Homo sapiens: one gene and its partners. The protein of the gene in region 2 interacts with the protein of the main gene of each other region in a pairwise test. Each region holds a gene or a part of one and is shown on either strand. Other genes may lie near its edges.

Region 1 (4,218 bases), on a different chromosome or scaffold from region 2:
TGGGTGAAAAACAAGGTGAAGGGTTTTTGCATTCAGAATTTGTAGACTTTCTGTCTCATTTTCTTTTATATAATAATTTCTTAAATCCAGAAGGATATAACTTAGATGCAAGTGAGCAATTGGCAGCAAATCTAATTTTTGCAGCTTCATAGCACTCAATCCCAAGAAATTCAGTTGTGATAAGTTGCCAAATTCCTTACAGATGGGCAGGGCCTTGAAATCATTGAATGAGAGATCTAAATGCCTGAAACTCACAATAGGATGGCAGGATATCTTTTGCAACTGATTATGAGATAAATCCAAATATTCTAAATCCTGGTTGAACTTGAAAACACTTAAATCAAGTAGCTGGATTCTGTTATGGGAAAGTCTCAAAACTGTCAACTCTGATAGAAAGCTCATGTCAGAGACCTGAAGCTCAGCGATGTAGTTCTGAGACATATCTAAGACTTTGGTTTTCAGCGGTAGGTCTTTTGGAACATGAATAAGACCTCTTTTTGACTTGTCTACTGCAAATTCATTTCCGTCGGAGAACTGGATTCTGGTTCCAACTATTATGATCATAAGGCAAACAAAATGGAAGCTTTTAACAATAGGTTCTTTGTCTTTGGTCATGATGTTGCAGTGGCTATCCTAAAGGGTTGTTCTTCTTCAGAGCATCTTGATATGAGTCCAAATTCTAGAAATATAATATACACTAAGATTAATAAAGATCGGATGGTTACTCTCAAACCTCCACTTACTAACCATAAAATCTAAATGATTTCTTCATTCACTAGTAGAGTCATTTCTGTCCCCATAATTTAATGTAATACTTTTTATAACCAGTTATATAGCTTGCTCATGCCAGAAGGGGCAATATAGGCCTTGTTATCAAAGAATTGTGGTTGTGTGTTTTGACCTGTCTGGTTGCTGCCTGAGGGATTCACACTCAGGGGCTTGCCTTTGTTTTGTACACCTTAGAACTTTCTCAGGGCTGGAACAGCCTTCTGGCTGGTGTTTGCTGTAAACAATTAAAGGCAAACATACTAGCTGCAGCCACCTGAGCAAGGGCTAACAGAGGGGGCAAGCAGCAGACACATCAAAAAGTCTGGGAAATATGCAAAGATATATGGAGAAAGATATGTGGGAGAAAAAAGGCTGAGGAAATCTCTGTATATACCAGGGAGTCCAGAAGTCCACTCACGTGCCCAAGGCTGGACGCATGTTCAGAGGAGACCTGAGAAAATCCTAAACTTCACCTCTGGCTCATCTTTAGCTTCCATGCATGCAGAAAGTGAAGGCTAAAGCAGAGCTGTGAATAGACTGGCTAAGCATTGAGAAAGTGATCCAACACAGCCAACCTGCAAAGATCAGGGGTGTTTTTGTTTTTGCTTTTGCTAGTTTATTTGGTTTTTGTTTTTGCTCCAGATGTTTAAAGAAATCTCAAGTTACTGGCTGACCACTAAGCTAACTGGACAGAAAATGTAATAGCCACACATGACAAAGAATAATCTTTATAAAAATTATTTAGAAAAGTCATTAAACAAGCAACTATAAGCCACAAGAAGCAACAATACACCCTGGGAAAGGGAGGCCCGGCACAGTGGCTTAAGCCTATAGTCCCAGAACTTGGGGAGGGCAAGGCAGGTGGATTGCTTGAGTCCAGGAGTTCAAAGCCAGCCTGCGCAACATAGTGAAACTCCATCTCTACAAAAAATACAAAACTTAGCTGGGCATGGTGGCGTGTGCCTATAGTCCCAGCTACTTGGGAGGCTGAGTGGGAGGATTGTTTGGGGCCGAGGAAGTCGAGGCTCCAATGAGCTGTGATTACACCACTGCACTCCAGCCTGGGTGACAGAATGAGACCCTGTCAAAAAATAAATAAATAAATAAATAAAACACCTCTGGGAAAGGGGGACAGAATTTGATTTCTAGAGTTACCTCATTGTAGTGTTTAAAATGTCTGATTTAAAAAAATAAAAATCAAAACAAAATAATCACTAGCCCCCAGATTTGCCAGTGGACTTGCTCTACGTTTTGCCCTGAAATAACACAAACCTTGCAAAAAGCAAATGGAAAGAGATTGTTATCTTTTTGATTGTGTAACTTGGCATTAAAGGAATCTCTAATTTATTTGTTTAAAAAAATTAGCCATGCAAAGAAACAGAAAGTATTGTTCATTCACAGGAAAAAAAAAAAAAAGAAATTAAAAGAACAAAGCCAGATAACTGACACCACCTAACATTGAGACTTGCTACAAAGCTACAGCAATCAAGGCAGTGTGGTTTTGGTGAAAGAATAGACAAATAGGTCAAATGACCAGAATACAGAGCTTAGAAATAGACCCACAAAAAAATAATCAACTGCTGTTTGACAAACGAGCAAAGGCAACTCAGTGGAGAATGGATAGTCTTTTCAACAAATGGTGCTGGAACAATTAGACCTCCACATGCAAAAAAAAAAAAAGAAGAAGAAGAGAAAGAATTTAGACGCAGACCTTACAGTTTTCACAAAAATCAGCTCAAAATTAACCATAGACCTAAATGTATAATGCAAAACTATAAAATTTCCAGAAGATAACATAGGAGAAAATCTAGGTGACTTTGGATTTGGTGATGACTTTTGAGATACGCATCAAAAACATAATCCAAGAAAGAAAACACTGTTAAGTTGGACTTCATTAAAATTAAAATTTTTGCTTTGCAAAAGACACTGCAAGAGAGTGAAAAAGACAAACCACAGACTCAGAGAAGATATTTGCAAAACCCATATATGATAGGGACTTGTATCCAAACTATGCAAAGAACTCTTAAGCTCCACAATAAGAAAACAAACAACCTAGTTTTTAAATGGGCACAAAAATCTAAACAGACACCTCACCAAAGAAGATATGTAAAGAGCAAATACACATATACATAGCTATTTGACATCATATTTCATCATGGTTTTGCAGATTAATACAGCAATGAAATTACATTACACTTATGAGAATGGGTAAAATCCAAAAACAACATCAAATGTTGGTGAGGATGTGGAGCAACAAGAACTCTCTTTCACTGTTTGTGGGAATGCAAAATGGTGCAGCCACTATGGAATGCAGTTTCTTATAAAACTAAGCATAGTCTTATCACACAATCCAGCAAATCACATTCCTGGGTATTTAACCAAAAGAACTGAAAATTTATGTCCACATAAAAGCCTCCATGTGGATGTTTATAGAAGCTTTATTCATAACTGTCAAACATTGGAAGCAACAAGATATCCCTCAATAGATAAAAATATTAACAAACTGGTACATTCACACAATAAAATACTATTGAACAATTAAAAAATGAGCCGGAGAAGCATTAAAATGGCTGAATAGAGGCACCTAGCCCTCACCCCCTCTGCAAAGAAGGACCAAAACAGTGAGCAGATAATCACACATTGAATGAGCATCTAAGAGAGAACACTGGAATTCAGCGGAGAAGTGACAGTGCACCTCTGAGGCATGGGAGAAGAGGGAAGTGAAGCAGCCAGCCCAGCTGGGACTAGCTCAGAACCAGGAGGAACTTCCCATTCCAGGGAAAGTTTAACTGAGAGATCTTCAGAGGTCAATGTTTCCACTATGGACTCCTGTAATCCTAGCCATGAGCTAGCTCCTTGGCCTTCACATGCCCTGGGGCTGTCTGGAATATATGCAATCACATTGTTCCACAATGGGACTTCACATTGGGTCCCACATACCCCATACCCTGAGACCCAAACAGCTTCAGCATAAGGCTCTTTTAAGAGCCCAGCCCTCACCATACACATCCTGTTCTGGGGCCCAACAACCCTGAATCTCCACACCCCTGAAGCCCCACTGATATTCTCCTACGTCCACCTAGAGGGCTACAGCATTGTAATGCCAGCTAAGATCAGCAGTGCAGCTAGGTCCCCAGCACTCTAGCCCATGCAATGCCCCGCATCCCAGGAAACAGGAAGCACAGTGCACCTAGTGGCTTTCCCTGGGACAAAGGGAGTCAAAGTGTGCATTCCCCAGAGCCTCAGAGTTACCTGCCCAGGGCCACCGCCACTTACAGCAACCCCATCTTCCCTAGCAGCAGGACTACGACACATCTACACATGCCTCCAAGGGGCCTGAGGACAGGTCCACCATGCCCTTTGCTGCTAGTGCCTGCCTGCCACTGCCATGGCAGGGCAGTGCCACACAGGGTGTGGCACATGCATGCCACACGGGGTCCTGAGGACTGG
Region 2 (3,656 bases):
TTCCCCTGAAACAACGAAAAAGAAGCTGTCTGTAGGAGGAAGTGGTGCTCACACCTGCATCCCACCTGCCCAAACTTGAGAGAGAAAATAGAACAACCCCTGATTTTACTGCCAAGTTCCACGCTTGAGCTACAGCCTCATTGCTTTTAATATTAAAAGGTGCAGGCCGGGCATGGTGGCTCATGCCTGTAATCCCAGCATTTTGGGAGGCCGAGGTGGGCGGATCACCTGAGGTCAGGAGTTCGAGACCAGCCTGGCCAACATGGTGAAACCCCGTCTCTGCTAAAAATACAAAAATTAGTCGGGCGTGGTGGCATGTGCCTGTAATCCCAGCTACTTGGGAGGCTGAGGTAGGAGAATTACTTGAACCCAGAAGGCGGAGGTTGCAGTGAGCCCAGATCACGCCACTGCACTCCAGCCTGGGTGACAGACCGAGAGTCCGTCTCAGAAAAACAAAAACAAAAAAAATGGTGTAATTGGGATCCCAGACGATGGCAGCTTTGACACTGCCTTGCCCAAAGGTAGGGGGCAGAACAGGCCCTCAGTTCAAGATCCTCACTTATGCAAGGAGAATGCTGTGTGCTAGTGGTTCCACACTTACCTCTTGCTTTAGCAGTTGCTCAGCCTGACTCCGAGTCATGTGTTTGGAATACCACCTGTGAAGGGAGAGTGCTGCTTGAGTGGCTCCTGGTCATAAGCAGATTGGAGGTTACAGCACCCTCCAGGGCTTGTCCATGTCAGTGATTCAGTCAACTCACTCAAACCCTATTTACTGAGCATCTGTCATGTGCATAGCACACTGTATCCCTTTCCCAAACCCAGGTTGGCATTGAAGATTCATGGAAATGGAGAGTAGCAGGCAAAGGCAAGCAGCAGGGAGTTGCAGGGAAGAGATCAGGGACTAGGGCACTTGAGAACAATCCACTTCCATGATTAGGGAGGAAAGGACAACAGTAGCAGTTTGACATTTTAATTCTTTCATCAGGTCGTCAACTCCTTTTTCTTTGAGTGTGATTCTTCTGGATTTGAGGGCATGGTGACCTCTCCAGCTCTCATAAATGGAGGGTGTTTGGGGGGTAAAGGTAAGACAGATACACTAATTTGAGGTGGTGGCATCATTTGATTCAGATGGTACTAATTTTAATATATATCTTGAAATAAAAAATATGTTGAAAGTAGAAAAAAGTGTATATATATATATACACACTTGTGTATGTATACATAATATACCTATATATACACCAGTGTATGTATACATATGTATACATATATACACTTGTGTGTGTTATATATATATATAAATATATATAAAATATATATAAATAAATAAATATATATATATATAGAGAGAGAGAGTTCCTCCTGGAAGATTGTGGACTGACATAAACATACTTACTCATACATTTCTATGGAGTCTTCTGCTTCAGTGACATAGTTACTAGGAATGTAGCCTTCCTGCCTGTGAAGGAAACAATGTGGCAGTTCATCCAGCACCTCCCCAGCCTCCAGGAGACAGATTCATATGCCCACGTCCCTGAGCTCAGAACAAATCTCAAATGGAGGTATATGTATCATGCACCTCCCTCAAAGACAATCATGTCTCTGATGCATGGTTAGGCAGTGAGCCAGTGAGGTGCAGAGCTTATGCACATGTTGCATTGGTTATATGTGCCCAACAACAGAGGCTCAGAGATGTGGCAGAGGCCATGTATAGGGAGCTGCACGCTGGGAAGTACTTGGAGGGAGAGCATGTTCAGTCTGGTGTGGGAAGAACAGTCTCTGATGAGGATGCTGATCACGGGAATTATGCCGCAGCACTTTTTGCGTGTAGGGAGTGGGCAGGCACCAGGCTCAGGAAGGGCTGGTGTGGACTCACCCATTTTTATCTCGTGCTCTCCACCATGGTAAGTTGCTTTCCTCCAAGATAAAATATTCATCACCCTTCCGCAGCTGTAGATCATTTGCATTCATTGGCATGTAATCATAAAGGGCCACAACCTTTTTCAGCTCACTTGTGGAGACTGGTGCTGCTGCTGGCTCAGGCGGTAGTGGCTTTTTCAAGATCTATGTAGTTAGGAGAAAAGGTAGGAGGGTTTGTCAAGATACCAAGCACTCTTCTCTTCTCTCCCAACTCTCTGGCTTACTCAAGACACCCAAATCAGGCATACTAAAATATTACTCAGCAGTCATTCAACAACCATTTTTAAGCACCAGTGCAGGAGTTCTCAGCCTTGCACACATATAAAGACCATGTATGGAACTTTTAAATTCCAATGTACTTTCGGAGGCCAAGGCGGGCGGATCAGTTGAGGCCAGGAGTTCGAGACCAGCCTGGCCAACGTGACGAAACCCCATCTCTACTAAAAATGCAAAAATCAGCTGGGCATGGTAGTGTGTGCATATAGCCCCAGCTACTCAGGAGGCTGAGGCAGGAGAATAACTTGACCCCAGGAGGCGGAGGTTGTAGTGAGCCAAGACCACGCCACTGCACTCCAGCCTGGGTGACAGAGTGAGACTGTCTCAAAAAAAAACCCACAAAAAACAAAAAACCAATTCCAATACCTAGTCAGTTTCCTCACAGACCAATTACATCAAAATCAAACTCTCAGGAATGGGACCCAAACATTACTATTTTTAAAGCTCACTAGACAAAAACCATTTATAGCTAAGGTCAGGAAACCGGCTTGGCACTAAACTTGTACGTGAATCTACTAAGTGGCTCAGAACCTTGGTTTCCTTCTTTGTAAAATGAGTATAATAATACCTGCTCTACTTACTTACAATATGTGAGAAAGGGCTTTCTAGCCCTCAAGAAGGAACCAAAAAAAAAAAAAAAACTTCTGAAGTGTTAGTGATAGGTGGTGTTAGTGCTAAGTGTTGAGTATGTTGGTATTAAGTGTTAAATTCTTCTAACTTTACTGTATGTTTGAAAATACTTTCCAGCTGGGCACGGTGGCTCACGCCTGTAATCCCAGCACTTTAGGAGGCCGAGGCGGGTTCGAGACCAGCCTGAACAACATGGTGACACCCCCATCTCTACTAAAAATACAAAAATTAGCTGGGCGTGGTGGTGCATGCCTGTAATCCCAGCTACTCAGGAGGCTGAGACAGGAGAATCACTTGAATCTGGGAGGCGGAGGTTGCAGTGAGCCGAGATCATGCCATTACACTCGAACCTGGGCGACAGAGCGAGACTCCGTCTCAAAACAAAAACAAAAGCAAAAACAAAACAACAACAAAAACTTTACATTAAAAAAATCAGGTTTTGTTCTAAACAGGTGATTGGATTACATGGTTGCTGAGAGCCTTCTATCTTTCCATCGAGGAGGAAATCCTAATTAGAAGAACAAATCCCCCATCTTAGCAAGAATACCAATTAACACTGCCAAGTCCCAGGGTAATTCTAAGACTCTAGTGTGTTCTTAGGGCTTGACTATAAGTTTCCATTTAAGCAGTGGCAGCACCCAGTTTCCCTGTATACCTGGTCCTCCTCAGGCGTTGGGGGAAGAGGCTTTTTTGTCTTCCGGTGAGAACTCCCAGGTTTTAAGCCTGCAAAACAAGAAGCCAGTGATGATATGGAATGCACTTTAGGAAAGGGGCCAAGGACAGGTTTGGTCAGGGACTTTGCCGTCCATATTGAGTGCCTTTAGGCAAGT
Region 3 (4,218 bases), on a different chromosome or scaffold from region 2:
TCTCCTACCCGGCCGGGTGCTCCTCACACATCCCACATCAGAGCAATGAACAGCCAGCTGGTCGAGCCCACGCCCAGGAGGGAAGCACAGGAAGCACAGCTACCGCAGGAACCCCCAGCTCTCAACTCGACGCCCGGCTCAGCACACACCCCGTGCAACGTGGGCCTTCAAAGGGCCCCACTGGCCCAGGAGCAGGTGCCTCAGCCGCCACGCGGGACGCGCCCACTCACCTGCTTAAACTGCTCCTCGTAAGTCCAGTCGCCGTGGTCAGGCGGCTGCAGCTGCGGGGCTACGTGGGCGGCCCCTCCGGGGTGGGCAGGGCCAGGCCCCGGCCGCTCCTGGCCCCCCAGCACCCTGGGAACGCCATCGCCGCGGAAGGCCTGGGGTGGCTGGGCCTTTCGGGGGAACAGTGCCGTGGTGCCCAAGCTGGCAGGGCCTGGGGGGCCCAGCCCCTCCTCGTCCTCCTCCTCCTCCTCATCCTCGTAATCCTCCTCCTCCTCCTCCTCATCCTCCCCGAGGTCTTCCTCCATCTCCTCCTCCTCCCATTTGGGCTTCCTGGGGTGAGCAGAGGGCAGGAGTCAGGGGAGAAGGTGCTGGCTCGTCCCAGCCCAAGGAAAGACCCACTCCCCGCCCAGCCTCAGTTTCCCTCTCTGGAAATAGGAAGAGCCGGCCGCCGCCAGCTCAGACTGCAGAGAGCGCTCATGAGCACAGCGTGGGGCACCCGTGACGCCCACTTTGTTTCCAATTAGCCCAGAACAGCACAAGCCGTCCCTACAGCGTGAATTTTGGGGCCTTGAAAAGCATCACGCAGGCAGCCACGGTGGCGCACACCTATAATCCCGGCAGCACTCTGGGAGGCCAAGGCGGGAGGATCCCTTGAGCCCAGGAGATGGAGGCTGTAGTGAGCTATGATGGCACCACTGCACTCCAGCCTGGGCCACAGAGCAAGACTCTCTTGGGAAAAAAAAAAAGGGAATCATTACGGCAGGCTGGTTCCTGCATCCTGCACCATGCATGCTGTCCCAGCTCCACCTCCCCTTCCCTCCACAGGGAGAATTCTCCCACCGCCATCTGAAATCCGCCCCACCCTCGCCACTGCCCCTCCACGGCACCCTCCTAGACTTTCTTGGCAGCCGTTTTTTTTTTTTTGTCTTTTTTTTGAGAGGGAGTCTCGCTCTGTCGTCCAGGCTGGAGTGCAACGGCGCAATCTCGGCTCACTGCAAGCTCCGCCTCCCGGGTTCATGCCATTCTCCTGCCTCAGCCTCCCAAGTAGCTGGGACTACAGGCGCCCGCCACCACGCCTGGCTAATTTTTTTGTATTTTTAGTGGAGACGGGGTTTCACCGTGTGAGCCAGGATGGTCTCGATCTCCTGACCTCGTGATCCGCCCACCTCGGCCTCCCAAAGTGCTGGGATTACAGGCGTGAGCCACCACGCCCAGCCATTGGCAGCTGTTTGTACAACCTGATATCACCTGCTTCTTTGCTGCTAGGTTTTGTTTGGTTGTTTTTTTTTTTTTTTTGAGACACAGTCTCACTTTGTTGCCCAGGCTGGAGTGCAAAGGCACGATCTCGGCTCACTGCAACCTCTGCCTCCCAGGTTCAAGCGATTCTCCTCCTCAGCCTCCTGAGTAGCTGGGATTACAGGCATGAGCCACTGCACCCGGCCAGTTTTGTTTTTTGAGACAGGGTCTTCTCTGTTGCCCAGGCTGGAGTGCAGTGGTGTGATCACAGCTCAGTGCAGTCTTGACCTCCTGAGCTCAAGCAGTCCTTCCGCCTCGGCCTCTCGAGTAGCTGGGACCACAGATGCATGCCACAACACCCGACTAATTTTTGTACTTTTTGTAGAAATGGGGCCTCACTAGGTTGCCCAGGCTGGTCTTGAACTCCTGGGCTCAAGCAATCCTCCCACCTCGGCCTCCCAAAGTGCTGGGATTACAGGCGTGAGCCACTGCGCCCAGCATCTTTGCTTGCTCAGGTCCTCCCAGGAAGATGCGGGTTCCTGGAGGCCAGGATCCCACAGCAAGTGAGCCCTCAGCCAGCCCTGGGGGGACCCACACGCTATGCAGGTCCAGCCGGCTGCAGATTTTATCTGCCCCTGCCGCTGAATCTGCTGTAGCCATCGGTGGCTAGGTTGCTTTAAGTTAACTAAGATGAAACAAAGTTGGCCGGGTGTGGTGGCTCACGCCTGTAATCCCAGCACTTTGGGAGGCCAAGGCAGGCAGATCATGAGGTCAGGAGATCGAGACCATCTTGGCTAACATGGTGAAACCCCGTCTCTACTAAAAATACAAAAAGTTAGCCAGGCGTGGTGGCGGGCGCCTGTAGTCCCAACTACTCGGGAGGCTGAGGCAGGAGAATGGTGTGAACCCGGGAGGAGGAGGTTGCAGTGAGCTGAGATCACGCCACTGCACTCCAGCCTGGGCGAAAAGAGCAAGACTCTGTCTAAAAAAAAAAAAAAAACCCACATTCTTGGCTCACTGCAATCTTCACCTCCCAGGTTCAAGCCATTCTCCTGCCTCAGCCTCCCGAGTAGCTGGGTTTACAGGCTTCTGCCACCACGCCTGGCTAATTTTTGTATTTTTAGTAGAGATGGGGTTTCGCCATGTTGGCCGGGCTGGTCTTGAGCTCCTGACCTCAGGTGATCCACCCACCTCGACCTCCCAAAGTGCTGGGATTACGGGCGTAAGCCACAGCACCCGGCTAAAAAAACCATTTTTCTTTTGAGACTGGGTCTATCTCTGTCATCCAGGCTGGAGTGCAGTGGCACAATCACAACTCAACTTCTGTTCTCAAGGGATCCTCCTGCCTCAGCCTCCCCAGTAGCTGGGACCACAGGTGCACCACCATGCCTGGCTAATTTTTTAATTTTTTGCGGAGATGGGGTCTTGCTATGTTGCCCAGGCTGGTCTCCAACCCCTGGGCCCACGTGATCCTCCCACGTCGGCCTCTCAAACTGCTGGAATTACAGGAAGGAGATCCCGCGACCTGACCCTTACTCCCATTCTGCAGATGAGCAGAGTGACACTCAGAGCCAGTAACAGCCCCCAGAAGGCCCTGCCCCAGACCCCAACTCACATGTCCTCGTCGGAGGCCATGTCCTCAAAGTGCTCCTCTCCTGGCCCTTCTCTGCCTCGCCCGGGTGAGCCCGGTGTCCCCTCCCGGGCCGCGTCCTCCTCCTCCGAGCCTGGGGGCCCATCCTCAGAGCCGCCGGGGCTGGCTGGGTGTCCCAGGCCCGCAGCTGCAGCCCGCATGGCTGCCAGTGCGGCCATCTGAGCCCGCTGCATCCGGGCACTCTCGGGCTCTCTGTCCTCGTCGGGGGCAGCCCGGGCCCGGCCGGGGGGTGCAGCAGGGGGATCGGGGGGCAGCTGCTGCCGGGCCTCCAGCTCCTGGCGCGCCCGCTGCTGCCGCTGCAACAGCGTCTCCATCACGGCCTGTAGTTTCATGGCCCTGCGGCCCGGGCCACCACCACCACCACCACCACCACCACCACGGGCGCTAGGGGTGGGCGGCGGGGGCGGCCCCTGCGGGGAGGGGGCCCGGCCGCACTGCAGCGTGGGGGCCGCGGGGGAGCCGGGGCAGTGCAGGGTGGCAGGGGGCGGGGGCGGGGGCCGCCGGGCTCAAGCTGAAGGCTGATGGGGCATGCCTCTTCCTCACGCTGGGCTCCAGGGGACAGAGGCTGGCATCCGGCTCATTCACGCATTTGCAGAAACCTGAGGGGGAAAAAAGGCACAGTCAGAGCAGGCCTGAGCTCCTCAAGCCCCCTCCTTCCTTCCCCATGAAGGCCCTGGGGATCAGCTCTCATGTCCATCTCATGCAGGATGCAGACCTGGAGGCCTTCTTGGAGGCAGAGGCGCAGGCTCTTCGCATACAGCCTACTGTGGGCCTGGGTAGCAAGGTCGCCCCGCACGGGGCCACAGAGAAACACGCTGTGGCCAGACTGTCTGCCCCAGGAGATCTTGGATTATTGCTTCACAAGCAGGGTGGGGGAATGGGCGTTCCTGGCCTGTGATTGGCCAGCGGGCTCCGGGCCCCAGTCAGGTGGGTTCTAAGTTCCAGTCGCTGCCTGAGTCCCTGTTGGAGCGGCCCAGCCTGGCCTCCAGGTATCTAGGTATCCTCCCATCTCAGGCCAGACTGGAGATTGAGCGCCTGTTGTATACGGGCCCTGGGCTAACCCTCCCCCCATCACACAACTCAACAGCAACGCCCAAGCCACAACT
Region 4 (4,328 bases), on a different chromosome or scaffold from region 2:
AACTACAAGACAGTTTTGAGATTATTGCCACCTTCAGACTGTTAGTTTTTGACTCGCAGAGTATCCTAACATGTAATACAAACCATATACACAAAGGTAAGGCATGTGGAACTGAAAGTTCCACAGAACTTATTTTCAGAATAAAATCAGCCCATACTTGGAAAAAGGGCATCATTTCTCATAGAAACAATATTCCTAATGATGATGATTTCCAGGCTAGCCCATTTCACCAGCATATGTAGTGTAATAAAAATCAGAGGGCAGAAATATACCTTCATACCCCATAATTGGGGGCTGGTGTTGATGGGGATGCTCAAGTGACTTGTCTTTATGTACGTTATCTCCTGTGAATGAATTTTCCACTTATAAAGTTTCTTGAGTTTAATCATTCTGAAATTGCTTTATTATTAAAACAGTATGTTCTTACAAAAAATTAGAGCAACGCAGAAATGTTTGAAAATTAAAGTTTATTAGGATATATTAATGTATGATATTATAGTATTACTCATCACATGTAAGCTTTACATCTGAAGCAATTCATGCTTACTGGGAGGGAAGTTTGAGTACTTACTTAGCTTTTCCTGCTATTCCTAGGTAAAGGCCCTCCTGTGGTCATTCTGAACAGAAGAGTGAGCTTACTGCAAACCACAGGCTGGACAGTAGAGGGTGCATATCCTCACTGAGTGGAGCTCAGAAAAGAATTAGGATTCTGCACACATTTATTCCAGACTCAGTTCCCACTGTTGGTTTTTATATTGAGATTATTTTAAAATCTTTTCGAAATATAATTTATTTGCTCTTTAAGTATGGGTGGGGTGTTAAGCTAAATTTAAATTGTTCTGTGAGGCACAGGCATTATACTTAAGCATGAACCTAATGAAGCCCTGAACATACCAACAGGTAGCAGTCCAGTTAAGCTCTTTATAAGGCCACATGCCTAAGCTCCAAAGGGAATCTTAATTTTTTATTGGGGAGACATTTCGTTACTACATTTAGTGGACTTTGTTAGATTATAACAAGCACAATAGATTTGTGATGAACATTTTTTATTTTTTTCCCCCTGAAAAGCTTTATGATACAACAGCTCTGTTTTCCTGAGAGATGGCCTTTAGGGTAGATGAGCCTCAGTATAAGCCCAGAGCATTTCTCTAAGGCTACCAAGGCTTGAGGAATTCTGTACTTACTCCCACTGTCACCCTGCTCTTCATCCCCCAGCTCAGGTAAGGGGAACGCAGGGAAGGCTGAAGAGTGCTAGCTGCGGAAGCACTGAATTAGGGTGTCCTCAGCCCTCCATTCCCAACTGGAAGCCAGTAGTTCACTTAGTGTATATAGCAGAGCCTCAAAAGCACAAGCATTTTGAGTGTCGTTTTTCTGTGCCCTCCAGCGATGAGATGGCAAATGGTGGGAAAGTGTCAGCTGTGTGAAAAGATAGTGATTGTTTGGTTTTGCTAGGACAGTTTTAATGTTGATAAAAATTGTTTATACATTTCTGAGAAGTACAGACCAGAAGAACTGAATTCTTGTTCTGTCTTCTTCATAGGTAGTTGTGTGATGCTGAAGTTAAGACAGATTGCTGATGTAGAACCCGATTTTCCTTTTTGTCTGATGTGTGTGTATAATTTCAAATTTGCTTCACTAGGATGCTATTTTACTAATGCGTTCCTGTGAATCCTTTCCTTGGAATCTTAGGGGGCCTCTTGTAGAGGCATTTGTCTGTTAGCAAATGTCACTTAGAGGCAAGTGACTTTGAGATCCCTGTGACCACCACCCTCCTGCTTATGTGGGATGAAGCTGTGTTTCTGTCCTCTGAGTTGGATTAGACTATTACATGCTGGTGAAGTAAGCTGGCCTGGAAATTGTCTACCATTAGGAATGCTGTTTCTGTGAGAAATGGTGCTCTTTTTCCAAAAAGAATATAGCCACATTTGGAATATATTCACTTTCATAAATTGGACACTTCCTGCAGTGACTCCTGCCCTAGCTGCCTCACGGAGTTGGTGTGAGGCCTAAATTAGTCAATTTTCCTGAAAATGCTTTTGAAACTGTAAAACTGAAGGTCCTTCCCCAATCCCTCCAGCCTGAGGAAAGTCTGAAATGTAATTTAGTTTGAAGTTGGCACACACTTTTATAGGACTGTGAATCAAATGAAGAAAACCCCTAGATAACATTAAACCCTTTCATTCTCAGAATCGATGATGCAACCAACTTGGTCCAGCTGTATCACGTGCTCCATCCAGATGGCCAGTCGGCTCAAGGGGCCAAGGATCAGGCTGCTGAGGGAATAAATTTAATCAAGGTAAAGTTTTTTTTTCATATTGGTTGTTTTGTGGTGGTAATTGAGCTGGGAAAAATTCAGAATTGGGTCATAATTAATGGTAACTAAACAGATTTGTGAATATGGGACATCTGTGGTCTTGAAAACATCAGTATGATTTGTCCCCATATTTCTTCAGCCTGGACAATAGAAACAGACAGGGGAGGGGGGTAAAGTGCAGTAAAGTAGGTTGAGTGATGTGGTGCTAGCAGCTGGAGTCCAGAGAAGTTCTGACAGTGCAGGGAGCAGCCCCTTTGTTCTTTGGAGCACTGGAAGGGCTGAGCTGCATCTGAGGTGTTCAAGCCACCAACAGGACAGGGTAGAGGACTAAGTAGCACATGTCCCCCAGAGCAGCTTCCTGTCTTTGTGTGGTCACATCACATCGGGGGAAATGGGCATGTGTCAAGAAGTGGAGAGTGTGATGCTTGTATATCATCAAGCCTTAGCTGTATTGTCATTTTGGAGCTGCATACCTCTCAAAACCATGGGCTTATGTACATTTATCTGTAAGTGCTGAGAGTTGAGATGATATTTTCAGGAAGGGAAGGGGAGGAGATTGTATAATTAATTTCATCTCTTCTAATGCTCAGAATATACATGGTTTTGTGGAACTGGCTTCTATCCTAGTAATACTGTTTGCATGCTGCAAAGCTAAGGAAACAATGACCTGTGATGACATCCTAGGAAGAGTAGAGAGAAACTACAGTACTGATTTTCTTTATGAACCTGATAAAGCGCAATGTTTTTGGAGAAAATATTCTTTAAAGTCAAAAGTTAGTTTGGTAACTCTTAGCCTCCAGATTTCTCTCTAACCTAATGGTTTTTGTTTTGATCTCGAAGGAAGTATTAATATTAATACAATGTCAGGGTCTTAATTGGATACTTCTGGTGTTTAGAATTAGTATTGCTTGAAATGTGTTGGGTATTGTTTTTCTGTCCATGTGTGTTTATTAATTATTGTATAATCGGGGGAAAAATTGTGAAATCTGAAAGCCCTTTTTAAGTAGGACTCTTTGCTACTACAGAAATGCTAATGATGTCTTAAAACTGAAAAACTTTATAAATAGCATATGTCCTATTGTTTTAAAATTTTCTTTTTAATTTAAACAGGTCTTTGCAAAAACAGAAGCACAGAAGGGAGCCTATATAGAACTAACACTGCAGACTTATCAAGAAGCACTCAGTCGCCATTCTGCAGCTTCCTAAAAATATTTTAAAAATACATTTATTTTACTAAATACTGACTACATTTCTCTGTTAATATTGAGCTAAATGTTAAAAAATGGCCAGATTAAAAGATATCAATTTGTAGTTCTCCCTACAAAGCAAAAATTATTACCCTACTCACTTTTCGTAGGCTACAAGGATATTTGAGTGCCTGGTTATGAATTTCTCAAATCATGTTAGATGAGCGTACGGTTAAAAAGTCTGGTGTGTTTTTGTGTTACCAAATAGGGCAAACGTTAACTTAGACAGACCCCCAGCTTAATGAGGTCAGAGGAACAGAGGTTTCACATCCTGACTCCAGAAATGGGTAGCTGCTAGACAAAATCGGGGCAAGACCTGTGGAATGATGCAATGAGGTCAAGAAAAAGGGTTTAGAGAATTACAGCCTGGATATTCAGCTCTAAGAAAAATGTGATTGACAACATTTGAAAATGCAGATTTAGTTATACAAAGAAAAGACAGTGGGGCTGATCCCTAGGCAAGGTGTAGTTTCGGCTCAGCCTTCTAAAACTAGAAGCCTATTTTCATTATTGAGAAAGGAAACAAGTACCTTCATTAATTCAAAAGGTTTTATGAGATATGGTCTAATAGTATGAAAAAAATCAAAGCCCATGTCTGTTTTAGTTAACAAGGAAAACACAGTGATTTAAATGCTGCACATAAACTCTTCTTAAGATGATGTGGGCATTGTGCTCCCAGTGGTCCACAGCATTTACATATAAAAATCTAAGAAGTTTCTCATAGTCCAAAGCACTGTGGTCAGGGTAGCAATCAATACCTATATATA
Region 5 (4,581 bases), on a different chromosome or scaffold from region 2:
AGTGCAGTGGTGCGATCTCGGCTCACTGCAACCTCTGCCTCCCGGGTTCAAATGATTCTCCTGCCTCAGCCTCCCGAGTAGCTGGGATTACAGGCACCCACCCCCACACCCGGCTAATTTTTTTGTATTTTTAGTAGAGATGGGGTTTCACTATGTTGGTCAGGCTGGTCTCAAACTCCTGACCTCAGGTGATCCACACACCTCGGCTTCCCAAAGTGCTGGATTACAGGCGTGAGCCACTGAGCCTGGCCAGCAATTTTCACTTACAGGTCTTCTTCTTCTTTTTTTTTTTTTTTTTTTTTTGAGACAGGGTCTTGCTCTGTCACCTAGGCTGGAGTGCAGTGGCACAATCAGCTGACTGTAAACTTGAACTCCTTGGCTTAGGATCCTCCTGCCTCAGCCTCCCAAGTAGCTAGGACTACAGACATGTGCTACCACACCTGGCTAATTTTTTTATTTTTTGCAGAGACAGGGTCTCACTAAGTTTCCCAGGCTGGTCTCAAACTCCTGGGCTCAAGCGATTCTCCCACCTCAGCCTCTCAAAATGTTAGGATTACAGGCATGAGCCACTACACCTGGCCACAGGTGTTCTTCTTGGTTGAGGTCAGCTCAAGGATTGTTGGGGGCAGAGTGAAGAGACTGTTGTGGAGTTAACCCTAAAGAAGACCACCATGTACAGCTGTACAAGATGTGCACTGCACAAAGGCATCAGGTTAAGGAGGCAATTGGGAGCTGACACTAAGCCTGTACACTACTTACACAGCCATGGGATTGTGGTTTGGGGAAACTTTGTATACATTAAGTGCTGTGGTGGCCCTGCCCTACAGCTCTCCTAACCTCTACCTCCCAAAGCTCCATTAAGTCCAGAGATGCAGTCCCATAAGAAACTCTAGGGTGCAGTCCACCTTTGTTATTTTCTCCTTTTTATGTACTCCAACTCCTTCCCATACAAGCACCAGGGAGATTTGTCATCAGAAAAATCACATTTTATTGATCACTTTTATTTAAAATTACAAAAATATAAATAAAAATAGTGAAATATAAATATTCAGTGTACAGGAGTGGTCCTCACCCCACCCAGTGAGGATTGGATGAACTAGGCTAAAAGGAAGGGATAACTGGCCAAGAAAGGGACATCTATGTGAAAGTGAAACTGAGACAGTGCTGGTCACAGGTCATGCTGCAGAATAATACATTCCCAGGCACTGTCACGTGGGGGACCCAAGAGGCCCCAGGAGTGACCTATAACCTCTCCAGAAAGACCACTCTGTGTGGCATCACAGTCCACACAGTTTAAGGAAATATTTAGACTTAACAATCAGACACCAGCTCTTACTCACACTTACACTCACAGCCCACACACAAGTGTGCAAACATACACACACATATATATTTCCTGATACATTCATGGAATATCAGAGCCCTGCCCTGAAGTCGTTAGTGTCTCTGCTCCCCAAACCGCTGCTCCCACATTGGCTAAGCTCCCTCAAGAGACCTCAGCTGTTACACTTCCTAATTGGGAAATTATTCATTTCTCAACCATGGGCCTCACAAATGCCCACCGTCGGGGGAGCTGGCTCTCCCTTCACCCATGCACAGGAGATGCCCTGCCCTTTTTAACTCCTGCAGGCTTCAGTCCAGAAAAAGACAAGTTGCTGGTCAGTAACATGTTGAGTCAGGACCACCCCTCCATCCTGGCCAGAGGGGTCTGGGCAGCCAGCACCCAGGCCTATGCCTGAGGGTAAAGCTATTGTCGTTCGCCCTGGTGGGTGGCACAGGCAAATCCATCTGTGCAGAGCCTATCTTCCCAGTCTCTTCTTACAGCTGATGGAGATGACTCTACTGCAAAAATGACAACCAGCAAGAAAGCGGGTGGTGCCCGTTTCCTCCCTGGGGACCCTCAGAGGGCCAGGCCATTCTCTTCCTTGGTGTGACTGCGGATCCAGGGTAAGAAGTGTGAGACTCTCGTGTAGACGCCTGGCTTGTCCTTCAGGGCACATCCACGGCCCCAGCTCACAATTCCAGTCAAAGTCATGCGGCCTTGGAGGGAACAGACGAGGGGTCCCCCTGAGTCTCCCTGTGACGCCAAAGATACAAAAGATGAGCCCTAGAGAAGTGAGGAGGGGATTTCTGATCCCATCACCCAACCATACCAGAGAGAGGGAAGAGTTTCCCAGTCAAAGTCCTTAGCGACTTCCCATTTTCTTTCTTTTTTTCGGGGGGAGGACAGAATCTCGCTCTGTCGCCCAGGCTGGCGTGCAATGACGTGATCTCAGCTCACTGCAAACTTGCCTCCTGTGCTCAAGCGATTCCCATGTCTCAGCCTCCTGATTAGCTGGGATTACAGGCAGGCACCACCACACCTGGCTAATTTTTTTTTGCATTTTTAGTAGACACAGGGTTTCACCATGTTGGCCAGGCCGGTCTCAAACTCCTGGCCTCAAGTGATCCATCCACCTCGGCCTCCCAAAGTGCTGGGATTACAGGCATGAGCCACTGTGCCTGACGCAGCCCCATTTTCTACCACATCAAGTTTAAAATCCCCTGCTTGGCTTTAAAAGCCCTGTCATCTGCCACTATTCCATCCACACTCCCAGACCCTAGTTCTCCTCCCCACCCGGAATATGCCAGCCTCCTTCTCAGTTTTGTATCTTTCAACTGAAACACCTTCCTTTCTTCCCTCTGCCTCTTCAAATGCCTATCAAGTCACATTTCCTTTAAAGCCTCCCCTCCCTGACCCTCAGGTTGGCACTCACCTCCCTCTCCTGAACACCTGATCATTTATAGTTCACAACACACCCTGGGCACTGAGTTACATTGTCTTTTACTGTTTCCTCTTTCTAGGATCTCGTGCCCCCAGTCTGAAGTGACTAGCGCAGAGCTGGGATTTTTTTGGTAATGTCTGGCAAACACATAAGGACTGGTTTAAACCCTCAAAGACCTGAGCTCCTGATTCTGGCTACTTAGGGCTTTGGCTAGAGAGAGACACCCTTAAGCTGGCTGGAACAAGCCCAGGAGCTCTGGGGAGATATGGAAGAGGTGGAGAGAGATGCTTGGAACACTCACCTGGCAGGAATCTGTTTTCCACTGTGGGTCAGCAGCACACAGCATTTTGGTGGTGACTTCAGAGCCGTAGTAGTGGGGCTGCTGACACTCCCGGTGGGAAATCAGCTTCACAACAGTCATTTTCAGCTGCTCCGGATAGAGATAGTCGGCTAGGTGGAGAAAACAGGGAGGCGTTTGCATCAAGATTTATCTGTCCACTGGGAGTCTGCCAGAGAGGGGAACCATAAAGTATCTCTACCAGGGAAGGCCCTTATTCTCTTCCATGCAAATCTGAGCCTTTACTCCACCTATAGCCCCTACCATCTATTTACCTTTGCAGCCCATCGCTCCCTAAACAACACTCTTCATCCATCCCTGGACCCATCTGCCACCGCCTCAGTGCTCCCACCTCTAACTCTGCAGTCTTCCCTTGATCACGCTGGGCTCATTTTCAGGTCAAAACACTCCTCAGGACCTTCTAAGTCAGTCGCAATTGTCACTTACTAGAATTCTCTTTTCCAAAGCCAGTGATCTCACAGCTTGTGCCAAACTGGGGATCGTTATACATCGAGGGCAGGCAGATGGTCTGTATAGTCCGGGATGGCTGCGCACACCTGCCCTCCTTGGAACGGATCTTCAGCAAGGCTGGGGGAGGACAGAGGGTCAGAGGAGAAAGATCACTACTGGTTAGGCGGTCCCCATCTGTCCCCTCCAAGTGCCGAGGAAGTAGCTATGCCTATCCCTAGGTCAGTCATCCAGGGAGGTCTGCTGGTCGCTTATCACCTGGAAACCTCCCCTGCCCCATGCCCCAAGGGCTTTGTTCCAGGTGTTGAAAAAGGCTTGGATGGCCAGAGCCACTGCATACAGCTGTACAGGTCGTTTCTGCAAAAACTCCCAGCTGAGGTAGTTAGGCTGGAATCCATCCCAAGGCTCCATTCTCCAAGTTCTATATCCTAGCACAGACAGAGGCTGCATCCCACAAAGGAAGGTGTGTCTTTTTCTAATTCATATAAACAGGGCCTTCCCAGCCCAAGCCATATACCCACAGGGCTGTTTCCACTCGCAAGAGGCTACTTGTTGGGGAAATTCAGGGTCTCTCCAGAGGAGCACCAGGCCCCTCAGACTTCATGGAACTCTTCCCTGCCACTCCCTTTGTCATGTATATCGAGGCTTCAAGGTCCCTCGCCCCACCCCTGCCCCACCGGGCAGCTTCAACCTCAGCTCCAGTCTCTCCCTGGGTCCCACTCTCCCCAAGCCATTATGGCCACAGTAGTCGCGGGGTTCCCCCTCACCAATGTCGTTGTGGTGAGCAAGCGTGTCAGCGCTGTAGTCCTTGTGTAGGATGAGGTTTTCCACCTCAAACTTCATCTCCCCTTGCGTGTTGGAGTTAAGCCTTGAGCGACCCAGGTAGACGATGTAGTCCTCCTTCTTTGGGTAATCACTGTGGGAGAAGATACCCATCAAACAGCTTAGTCCCATGAAATCTGCCACTTCTTCCTTCCCTCCCTAGAGGCCTCAAAGCACGACTTGTCCCCA
Region 6 (4,218 bases), on a different chromosome or scaffold from region 2:
TCTGCATTTCTCCAAAAGCTCCTATAATTCAGGTGATCAGTAATTCAGACAGCTCTCTTGGGGGCCACTCCCTGTATCAGTGTAATCAGGCTTTGCTCTCTGTAAAGATCCCTGTCACTCAGGTGGGATGGAAGAGCAAGGTGAGGTTTGTTAAGGAGAAATTGTGTCTCCCAGCTCACACCTGAACCTGGCTATCTGAAATGACCACTAAGATTCCTTCCAACCCAGTGCCCTGTGATTCTGGTCAGTCAAGCCAATGGGCTCCAGGCCCTCCAGGAAGGTGGGTGAACCAGGTGGAAGGGAGGAATTTACCTGGATGCAAGATCTCCCAACAGGCTGGGTGGGTCAGAGGAGGCAGGAGAAGTGGTCAGGAGAGAGTTCAGAGAGGAAGAAAACAAAAAGCACATTCATTCACCACTTCTGCTGTCCCCCGGATAGAGAAGACCCACGGGACACACTCCCACCCACCCCCCTGCACAGCCCTGACTGCTCTTTCAGGGATACACCGAAATGGCATTAGCCCTGCCCCGAGGGACTGGGATCCAGACCCAGCTCAGCAAACCCCTGAGCCCCAGGATCCTCATCTGTCAAGGCAGTGTAAAAATTAACCCCAGTGCTGCCTGTCCCAAGGGAGGCCGGACTATCTAAAGGCAGAGGGAAGGACTCCGGGGTTGCCAAGAATGTTTGAGGGACTGTGGGTCCTGAAAGGTCACCAGACACAGGATTTGGGATTTGTAATTTTGAGATGTCCTATTATATAAGGTCAGGATTACATACTGCCACCTGCCAAGAGGCATTCTTCTAATAATCAAGGAGACCCAATGTCTAATGGGATTTAGCTTTTCAATCTTTTCATAGAAATTTATGAATTAAGTTACAAAAAAGAAACACAGTAGTTTGTTTGTTTGTTTTTCTCCCTGAGCTTCCACCAAACTATGCTCCAGGGCAGGGCAGTCTGGTCCACCACTATGACCTGAGTTAGGAGAGGAGATTTCAGGCAATGTTTGGGGCACTGTCTGGGCCTCTGTTTCACCATCTGTAAAATGGGAAAGCTGACTAGCAAATCCCCAATCCAGCTCTGGGTTCTGAGCCCTTTTAGCTGTTTCCTCAGAAAATCAGCTTGGGCATGCATGGGGGTGGGTGCTATGCCCAAAGTGTGATAAGGAGATGGCACCCCTGGGGACCCCACAGCAAAGACTCTGAGGACGCCGTCCCCTGGGCATGGCCAATCCTCAGTGCGAGCCCAGACCTAGGATAGAGGAGGAGGAGAGAGAGAAAGAGATGGGTGGGGGTAAGAGAGGGGCTGAGGGCCAAGGAAGGAAGAGAGGGAAAGCGGGCGGGGGAGAAAGAGGAACAGAAGGGAGGAAAAGAAGGGACAGGAGGTTCCTCCTCCAAGGTGGATGCAGCTAAAAGGGCTGCAAACAGGCAGAATGGGGCAGGGGCCTGTGGGCACCTGGGACGCTCCCCTCTGCACTCCGGGGTCTTGGGCTTGGCTGGAGCACTCACCCGCCCCGAGACACCACCAGCTTCACTTTCACTTTGTAGGAAACAATGATCCCCAGGATCTCACGGTTGGCACCTTCCCTCAACCTGCAAAGTGACACAGGGGAGCCAGTTCAGGGGCCTTGCCAGGTGGGCGAGACACCTCAGGGGTGGGTATGCTGGGGGGCAGTGGCCGTCCATCCCCCATCTGGCTAGCCACTCAGCTACCATGTCCAATAGAGCCCAGTGGAGATGAGGAAGGCGAGCAGTGCCCTTAGGTAGCAGGGACCCAGAGCCCCGGTTCCAAGTCTGACTGTGAGACTCGCTCACTGTGTGGCCCTGCTGAGCCCCTCTCCCTGCCCAGGCCAGCGTCCCCGCCATGAGGGCCAGGCTCCTCCTCCCCTCAGATGGATTCTGCTTCTCTCAGCAACCCATGGGCAGAAAGGGCCACACGGGGAGTTCACAGAGGGCGAGGCAGCTGGGGTGGGGTGGGGTGGGGGCCATCAGAGAAGGACTTCTCCGCAGAGGTGGTGCTTCAGCTGGGTCTTGAAGATGGGTAGGGTGTGAGCCAGGGTGGAGACAGGGCAAAAAGCTTCAGGTAAGTGGGAGGCTGTGCAGGGGCTGCTGAAGAGAGCTGAGTCTGTGCTGGGAGTGGCGGCTGCTCTAGACGTAGGCCAAAGCCCCACTGAAGGACCACACTGGCAAGAGGGCAAGATGGCATCCCCATAGCCAGGGCTCTGCTGGAGCAGAGTAGCCTAGAGGCGTCCACGATGACTGTGCAGCAGGAGTGACCAGATGCCCTGGGACCCCTGACTTGGAGGGGCACCCCATGTTGGGTCTAACCCAGCTCACCACCCTGGTCTCTCCTCAGGGACACCCCATCTGACTGAAGGCATTACGTCAGAAGCTGCCACCTCTTGCAGGAAGCCTTCCCAGGTTGCCCTCCCCCAGGCATGGTAGCAGAGCCCAGCACTGCCTGAGTGAGCTGGCCTAGTGGTCCATCTTATTCTCTCAGTCACCCCTGGGTAGGGTTGGGAGTAAGGAGGCAGCTTCCCTGACAAGTCAAGCACCTGAGGACAGGCCCTGACAAGGCTATGGAGAGGGTAGCCTGAGCCTTGTCTTTGAACTGGGGGGACCAAGGAGGGTGTGGCCCCATCAGGCAAGATGCACTAGGAGCCCAGGGCTAGGAGGGCAGGTCCTCACAGGGTGCTAGAGGCCAAGTTCGTGTCTTCGTGCTTGAGCTTCCCGTCCAAGGCGAGGCCCCGCTTCTCTCGGTTATTGGCTAGGAAGGGGGTCAGTGTGTAGACCTTGCAGAACGTCGAGCTGGGTGCCACAGTGTCACTGGGAAGAAAGGAAGCAGCTGTGGAGATGGCCCTCCCCAGAGCCAACCCCAGCCCTGATCTCCAGCCCAGCAGAATATCTAGTCTGAGCCTGCTCCAAGTCTCCCTCTCCCAACCTCTGTCCCCCAGACACACGGACCACTTGGGCCAGCCCAGCTCGGGCAAGGAGACCACTGCCACTCAAAAGAGGCACATCTACATTCTACGCACAAACAGGACTGAATCTCGGATATTCTAAAAGATTATCCTAGTCAAGCAGCACAGTGCTAAAAAGCACATTTATTTAAAGAATTACAGCCAGCCGGGTGCAGTGGCTCACGCCTGTAATCCCAGCATTTTGGGAGGCCGAGGCGGGTAGATCACGAGGTCAGGAGTTGGAGACCATCCTGGCTAACAAGGTGAAACCCCGTCTCTACTAAAAATACAAAAAAATTAGCCGGGCATGGTGGTGGACGCCTGTAGTTCCAGCTACTCAGGAGGCTGAGCCAGGAGAATGGCATGAACCTGGGAGGTGGAGCTTACAGTGAGCCGAGATTGCTCCACTGCACTCCAGCCTGGGTGACAGAGCAAGACTCCATCTCAAAAAAAAAAAAAAAAAAAGTACAGCCACAGCAGGCACAGTTGCTCATGCCTGTAATCCCAGCAACTTGAGAGGCTGACAGGAGGATTGCTTGAGGCTAGGAGTTTGAGACCAGCCTGGGCAACATAGCAAGACCCCATCGCTACAAAAAATTTTAAACATTAGCCTGATATGGTGGTGCACACCTGTAGTCCTAGCTACTTGGGAGGCTGAGGCAGGAGGATCACTTGAGCCCAGGAGTTCGAGGCTGGCTGTAGTGAGCCATGATCATACCACTGCACTCCAGCCTGGGCAACAGAGTGAAACTCTGTCTCTAAACAAATTTAATTTAAATTTATTTTATTTTATTTTATTTTATTTTATTTTATTTTTTTGAGACAGAGTCTTGCTCTGTCGCCCAGGCTAGAGTACAGTAGTGCGATCCTGGCTCACTGGAACCTCCACCTCCCAGGTTGAAGCAGTTCTCCTACCTCAGCCTCCCAAGTAGCTGGGATCACAGGGGCGCGCCACCATGCCCGACTAATTTTTGTATTTTTAGTAGAGATGAGGTTTTGCCATGTTGGCCAGGATGGTCTCAAACTCCTGACCTCAAGTGATCTGCCTGCCTCAGCCTCCCCAAGTGCTGGGATTATAGGCGTGAGCACCAGCCCTGTCTCTAAACACATTTTAAAAAGAAAAAATTATAGCTACACATAAACCATAAATGAAGCTATTTGGGCACCCATATACCCACCATCTAGGCTCAACAATTAAAACTTTACTTGCTTGATCACATCCATCATATATAGGGTGTTTTGATTGTCCAATTTTTACTTG
Region 7 (4,218 bases), on a different chromosome or scaffold from region 2:
AAATAAATCATTTGGTATGTATAACATATATGCATATGTATTGGCTTAATGATTCATGGCTTCAACTGAGAAACCCTTGCTAGTGTCAACCACACAGAAAACTGCAGGAGTTTCACTTCCTGTTTTGCCAACTTTAAGCATGAAGCAATTGGGTGTGGAAGAAAGAAAGTGTCCTTGAGTGACCTGGAGGCCCAGGCTCAGGTTTTGTCACTTTCCTACTCTGTGGGCTATTGAAAAATTTACTTCATTGAACTTCAGCTTTCCCATCAATAAAATGGAAAAAGTTAATTATGATTTGCTACCTTACTCAGCTAATGAGATATTCAAATATATAGTTTTGTGAATATGTTTCAAGTTGTAAGGTATCACACAAATTTAAGGCATTACAATTGGCATTAATTTATCCTTATTCCACCCTTTATCCCTCTTAAATCCAGAGGATTTAAAGAGCTAAAAAGAGGCTGGCTGAGGCCTGACTTTACTCTTTCTTCTCCTTCTGTTCTATGCATATAATTTCTTTCCCTGCTTGTCCACCTCACCTGCCATTTCTAGAATTTCCATCTGGGAGAGGGAACTGATAGGAAGGAGGCCAATGTCAGCCTTGAATATTTCGGCCTTGAAATATTCCAAGTTGTATGTTGATCTTCCTTCTCAGAGCCTTGTACATTTGCTTGAATAAACACACTTATGCAGAATTCATATTCAAATATGAATAGAACCACACTTACATGTAGCACGGATATACACAAAATCATACATTTTCAAGCATACTAAGAAACTGAGGCATACATCTGTAGATAAACAATCATGTATGTATGTTAGTTCCTCACTTATCCACAGTTTCACTTTCCCAGGTTTCATGGTCAGTTATGGTCTGAAAATAGGTGAGTACAGTACAGTAAGATATTTTGAGAGAGAGAAAGAAAGAGATCACATTCACATAACTTTTATTACAATATATTATTATAACTATTCAATTTTATTGTTAGTTATTGTTAATCTCTTACTGTGCCTAATTCAGAAGATGAACTTTATCTTAGGTATTTATGTATAGGAAAAAATATTGCATATATGAGGTTTGGTACCATCTGCGGTCTCAGAGATCCACTTGGGGTCTAAGAACGTATCCACCAAGCATAAGGGATAAGGGGAGACTACTGTACAAGCACAAGAGTAGAGAACTCATCTCAAACAGCCATAGACATCCATTTCAAATGGATGTATTCTTCAAGAAATATAATCACACTCTCTTCTATACAGATATGATCATGCGGACACACACACTTTCAAATACACACAGCCCTGATAGGGATACATAGGGATATGTGCACAAATGCACACATCTACTTTCACTAGTACATGAGACATGGAAACACACCCAGGGATGTTCAATCACCCTAGACCTGCTCAAACCAAACACACTCTGAAACACTCAGTAACAAACACTTCTGACTGTGGTCATATTTCCAGTTTTGACAACTGAATTTTGTTGTCTTTTCTTTTTTATAGCTTCATTCAGACATAATTGATATTATAAAACTGCATATATTTAATGTATACAATTTGATGAGTTTAGACATAGTCACATACCTGTCAAACCATCACCACAATCAAGGTAATAAATATATCCATCACCTCCAAAAGCTTCCTTGTGTATATGTATATGGTAAGAACACTTAACATGAGAGGTACCCTCTTAACAAAATGTTAAGTGCATAATACAGTATTGTTCATTATACGAACTCTGCTATACAGCTGATCTTTAGAGCTAATTCATCTTGCATACTATAATTTTATACCAATTAGACAACTCCCTATTTCCTCATTTCTCCCTTCCTCCTTTTCCCTAGGAACCACTGTTCTATTCTCTGCTTCTATGAGTTTGACTATTTTAGAACCTCATATAAATGAAATCAGGCAGTATTTGTCTTTCTGTTACTTGCTCATTTTACATAGCATAATGGCCTCCGGGTTTATTCATGTTGTCATAAATAACAGGATTCCCCCTTTTTTTAGGCTGAATAATATCCCATTGTACGTATATGCACATTTTCTTTGTCCATTTATTTTTCAATGGAAATTTGGGTTGTTTCCATAACTTTGGAAACAGTGATTGTGAAGAGTGCCACAATGAACATGGGAGTGTAAATATTTTCTTGAAATTCTGATTTCAATTATTTTGGGTATATATACAGAAGTGAGATTGCTGGATCATATAGCAGTTCTATTTTTAATTTTTGAGAAACCTCCGTACTGTTTTTCATAACGGCTACACCATTTTCCATTCCCTCCAGCAGTGAAGAAGGGTTCCAATTTCTCTATATCCTTGATGACACTTCATTTTTTTATAGTAGCCATTCTACCTGGTATAAGGTGATATCTCATTGTGGTTTTTATTTTCATTTCCCTGATGACATCCTGATTGTCCTTTTCTTGAATGTTCTGTTTCTGAGGAGGCTGGATGAACATTCTTTTCTGGGAACCTTCTTTATAAGAACCCCATTAATTCCAGACACATTGTTTTCTCAATGATAACATCCACTCTTCCCAAAATGTGGTCAAGGAGCATTGCCCAACAGGAAACAGCAATGTATACTCCCTGCCTTGAATACCTTCACACGTAGTTCTCCTGGCAGTGAGAAGGGTACAGGGGAGGGATCCCAGCCATCTGTGTCTCCCTAAAGAGATTCAGAGGTCCATCAAACATCACTTGTTCTGAAAAAAATAAACTTCTGCTGCAACTCATTTCATGAGGTCACCCCGGGTTTATCAGCCCATATGTTTCTGGAATCAAGAAAAGGTGACCTCCTGAGGTCATCCCACTTCCTTCCTGCCTCTAGCCCAAATTGTCCATGATAAGACCAGGAAGCGGAAATTTTCTTCCCGTTTAAAAGAGTGCCCCCTTTAAACAAATTATTTCAATGCTGCTTTCATGACAGTCATTACTTAGTAGGCAATAACTTTGGAATGACATCGAGTGACAAAGTGACAGAGTGTACTTTTCCATACTTCCTTGAAAAATAGTGGTTAATATGGATATTTGAAGCACGTCTTAAACAACCTTATTTATGATATTAGCTTATAGGCAAGACGTAAAAAAATGAAAACTGGATATATAAAAATAAAAATATATCAGGGGTGATTAGTTAAAAAATAGAACATGCTCGAGAATGACCAGGATGGTTGTGAGCATGTGTTAATCAGGTTTCCTTAGGAATTAGCCACTAGACTTTAACCTCTGTAAGGAGACAGACTTAAAATGGAAGGGGCATCTTGCATCAGGAGCCCCTTGACGACTGCAGTCATCAAGTAGAATTTAAATTGTATTCAATCAAAAAGGAAAAAGTGAACACCCAGTTCAGTCAAAACTACCAAAATGGTTTTATGATGGCTATAACATAATACAATTTCCATTCAAAAGACTCAGGAAAAGAACAATGTCTCTTTCTGTTTTCTCTGTCTTTATTCAACTTGATGAGGTAAGAGTTGAAATGACTTTCTTTGTCATGGGTTCCTTGACTGAGTTGGTTGAAATGCCCACCTGGAAGACTCTGTATTTTAGTCTAGCATTTATTCCCTCTGCACTGGAAGCTCCTTGAGATTAGCAGCCCTGCATATCTAGTGCACCATGGAATTACTCACCCTTAGCATAAGGCCTGACATGTGGCAGCATTTAATACTTATTAACTGAACAAGTGTTGGACCCAGCTGGGCAAGAAATGCCTCAGGAGGTTTTTATTTTTCCTCTTCAGATAGATGTTGCTTCCTGCCAATTGCATCCTGTACCCACTGTTCCTTCTGGATTCCATGATTTACCATCCAGCAGGGCTTTTCTGAGTCGTCTCCAGAAGATGTGCCGCCCCAGGACACTGTCCTCCCACTCCAGGTAAGTGTTCCTGCTGAGAAGGCGGTACAGCTCCACCTGCTGCCTGAGCAGGGTCTTCTCCACCTTCTGCAGGACAATGAAGATGATACCAGCACGACTGCTCAGAAACTGCCAGGTCTGAGCAATCTCATATTCAAAGATACACCAGCGGCTCTGGATGAAGTGCTGGGACACCACAACAATCACCTTTCGGCTTTTATGGAAACCTTCATGGATGATGTTGGCAGCAATGGCCACACCGGGAATAAAGTCTCTGTAGTGAAGGCAGAGCTGAAATGGAGGCACCCCTTCTTCTAAATTCTTTACTAGCTCATTCCTTACCCAGTCCTCAT

The links.
Region 1: the proteins of BTK (region 2) and TLR6 interact in a two-hybrid assay, tested with the Homo sapiens proteins (one study listed by BioGRID).
Region 3: the proteins of BTK (region 2) and ARID3A interact in binary tests that used the Homo sapiens proteins (3 or more experiments, as listed by UniProt).
Region 4: the proteins of BTK (region 2) and MRPS22 interact in a two-hybrid assay, tested with the Homo sapiens proteins (one large-scale study listed by BioGRID and IntAct).
Region 5: the proteins of BTK (region 2) and PLAU interact in a two-hybrid assay, tested with the Homo sapiens proteins (one large-scale study listed by BioGRID and IntAct).
Region 6: the proteins of BTK (region 2) and ARRB1 interact in a two-hybrid assay, tested with the Homo sapiens proteins (one large-scale study listed by BioGRID and IntAct).
Region 7: the proteins of BTK (region 2) and TLR4 interact in a two-hybrid assay, tested with the Homo sapiens proteins (one study listed by BioGRID).

Annotation. Positions count from the first base shown.
Region 1 is NC_000004.12:38,828,859-38,833,076, forward strand, and holds part of TLR6 (toll-like receptor 6 precursor), read right to left. Parts: intron 680-4,218; 5' UTR 616-679; coding exon 1-615. UniProt on the Homo sapiens protein: Participates in the innate immune response to Gram-positive bacteria and fungi. Specifically recognizes diacylated and, to a lesser extent, triacylated lipopeptides.
Region 2 is NC_000023.11:101,358,692-101,362,347, forward strand, and holds part of BTK (tyrosine-protein kinase BTK), read right to left. Parts: intron 3,550-3,656; coding exon 3,482-3,549; intron 2,065-3,481; coding exon 1,877-2,064; intron 1,460-1,876; coding exon 1,397-1,459; intron 657-1,396; coding exon 602-656; intron 6-601; coding exon 1-5. UniProt on the Homo sapiens protein: Non-receptor tyrosine kinase indispensable for B lymphocyte development, differentiation and signaling. Binding of antigen to the B-cell antigen receptor (BCR) triggers signaling that ultimately leads to B-cell activation.
Region 3 is NC_000019.10:928,755-932,972, reverse strand, and holds part of ARID3A (AT-rich interactive domain-containing protein 3A), read right to left. Parts: intron 3,960-4,218; exon of another isoform or gene 3,828-3,959; intron 3,712-3,827; 5' UTR 3,445-3,711; coding exon 3,077-3,444; intron 556-3,076; coding exon 231-555; intron 1-230. UniProt on the Homo sapiens protein: Transcription factor which may be involved in the control of cell cycle progression by the RB1/E2F1 pathway and in B-cell differentiation.
Region 4 is NC_000003.12:139,353,495-139,357,822, forward strand, and holds the end of MRPS22 (small ribosomal subunit protein mS22), read left to right. Parts: intron 1-2,187; coding exon 2,188-2,296; intron 2,297-3,424; coding exon 3,425-3,520; 3' UTR 3,521-3,635; downstream 3,636-4,328.
Region 5 is NC_000010.11:73,913,885-73,918,465, reverse strand, and holds the end of PLAU (urokinase-type plasminogen activator isoform 1 preproprotein), read right to left. Parts: intron 4,487-4,581; coding exon 4,338-4,486; intron 3,691-4,337; coding exon 3,550-3,690; intron 3,216-3,549; coding exon 3,067-3,215; intron 2,896-3,066; exon of another isoform or gene 2,845-2,895; intron 2,078-2,844; coding exon 1,901-2,077; 3' UTR 972-1,900; downstream 1-971. UniProt on the Homo sapiens protein: Specifically cleaves the zymogen plasminogen to form the active enzyme plasmin.
Region 6 is NC_000011.10:75,271,389-75,275,606, forward strand, and holds part of ARRB1 (beta-arrestin-1), read right to left. Parts: intron 2,824-4,218; coding exon 2,686-2,823; intron 1,591-2,685; coding exon 1,507-1,590; intron 337-1,506; coding exon 313-336; intron 1-312. UniProt on the Homo sapiens protein: Functions in regulating agonist-mediated G-protein coupled receptor (GPCR) signaling by mediating both receptor desensitization and resensitization processes.
Region 7 is NC_000009.12:117,714,179-117,718,396, reverse strand, and holds part of TLR4 (toll-like receptor 4 isoform A precursor), read right to left. Parts: coding exon 3,749-4,218; 3' UTR 1-3,748.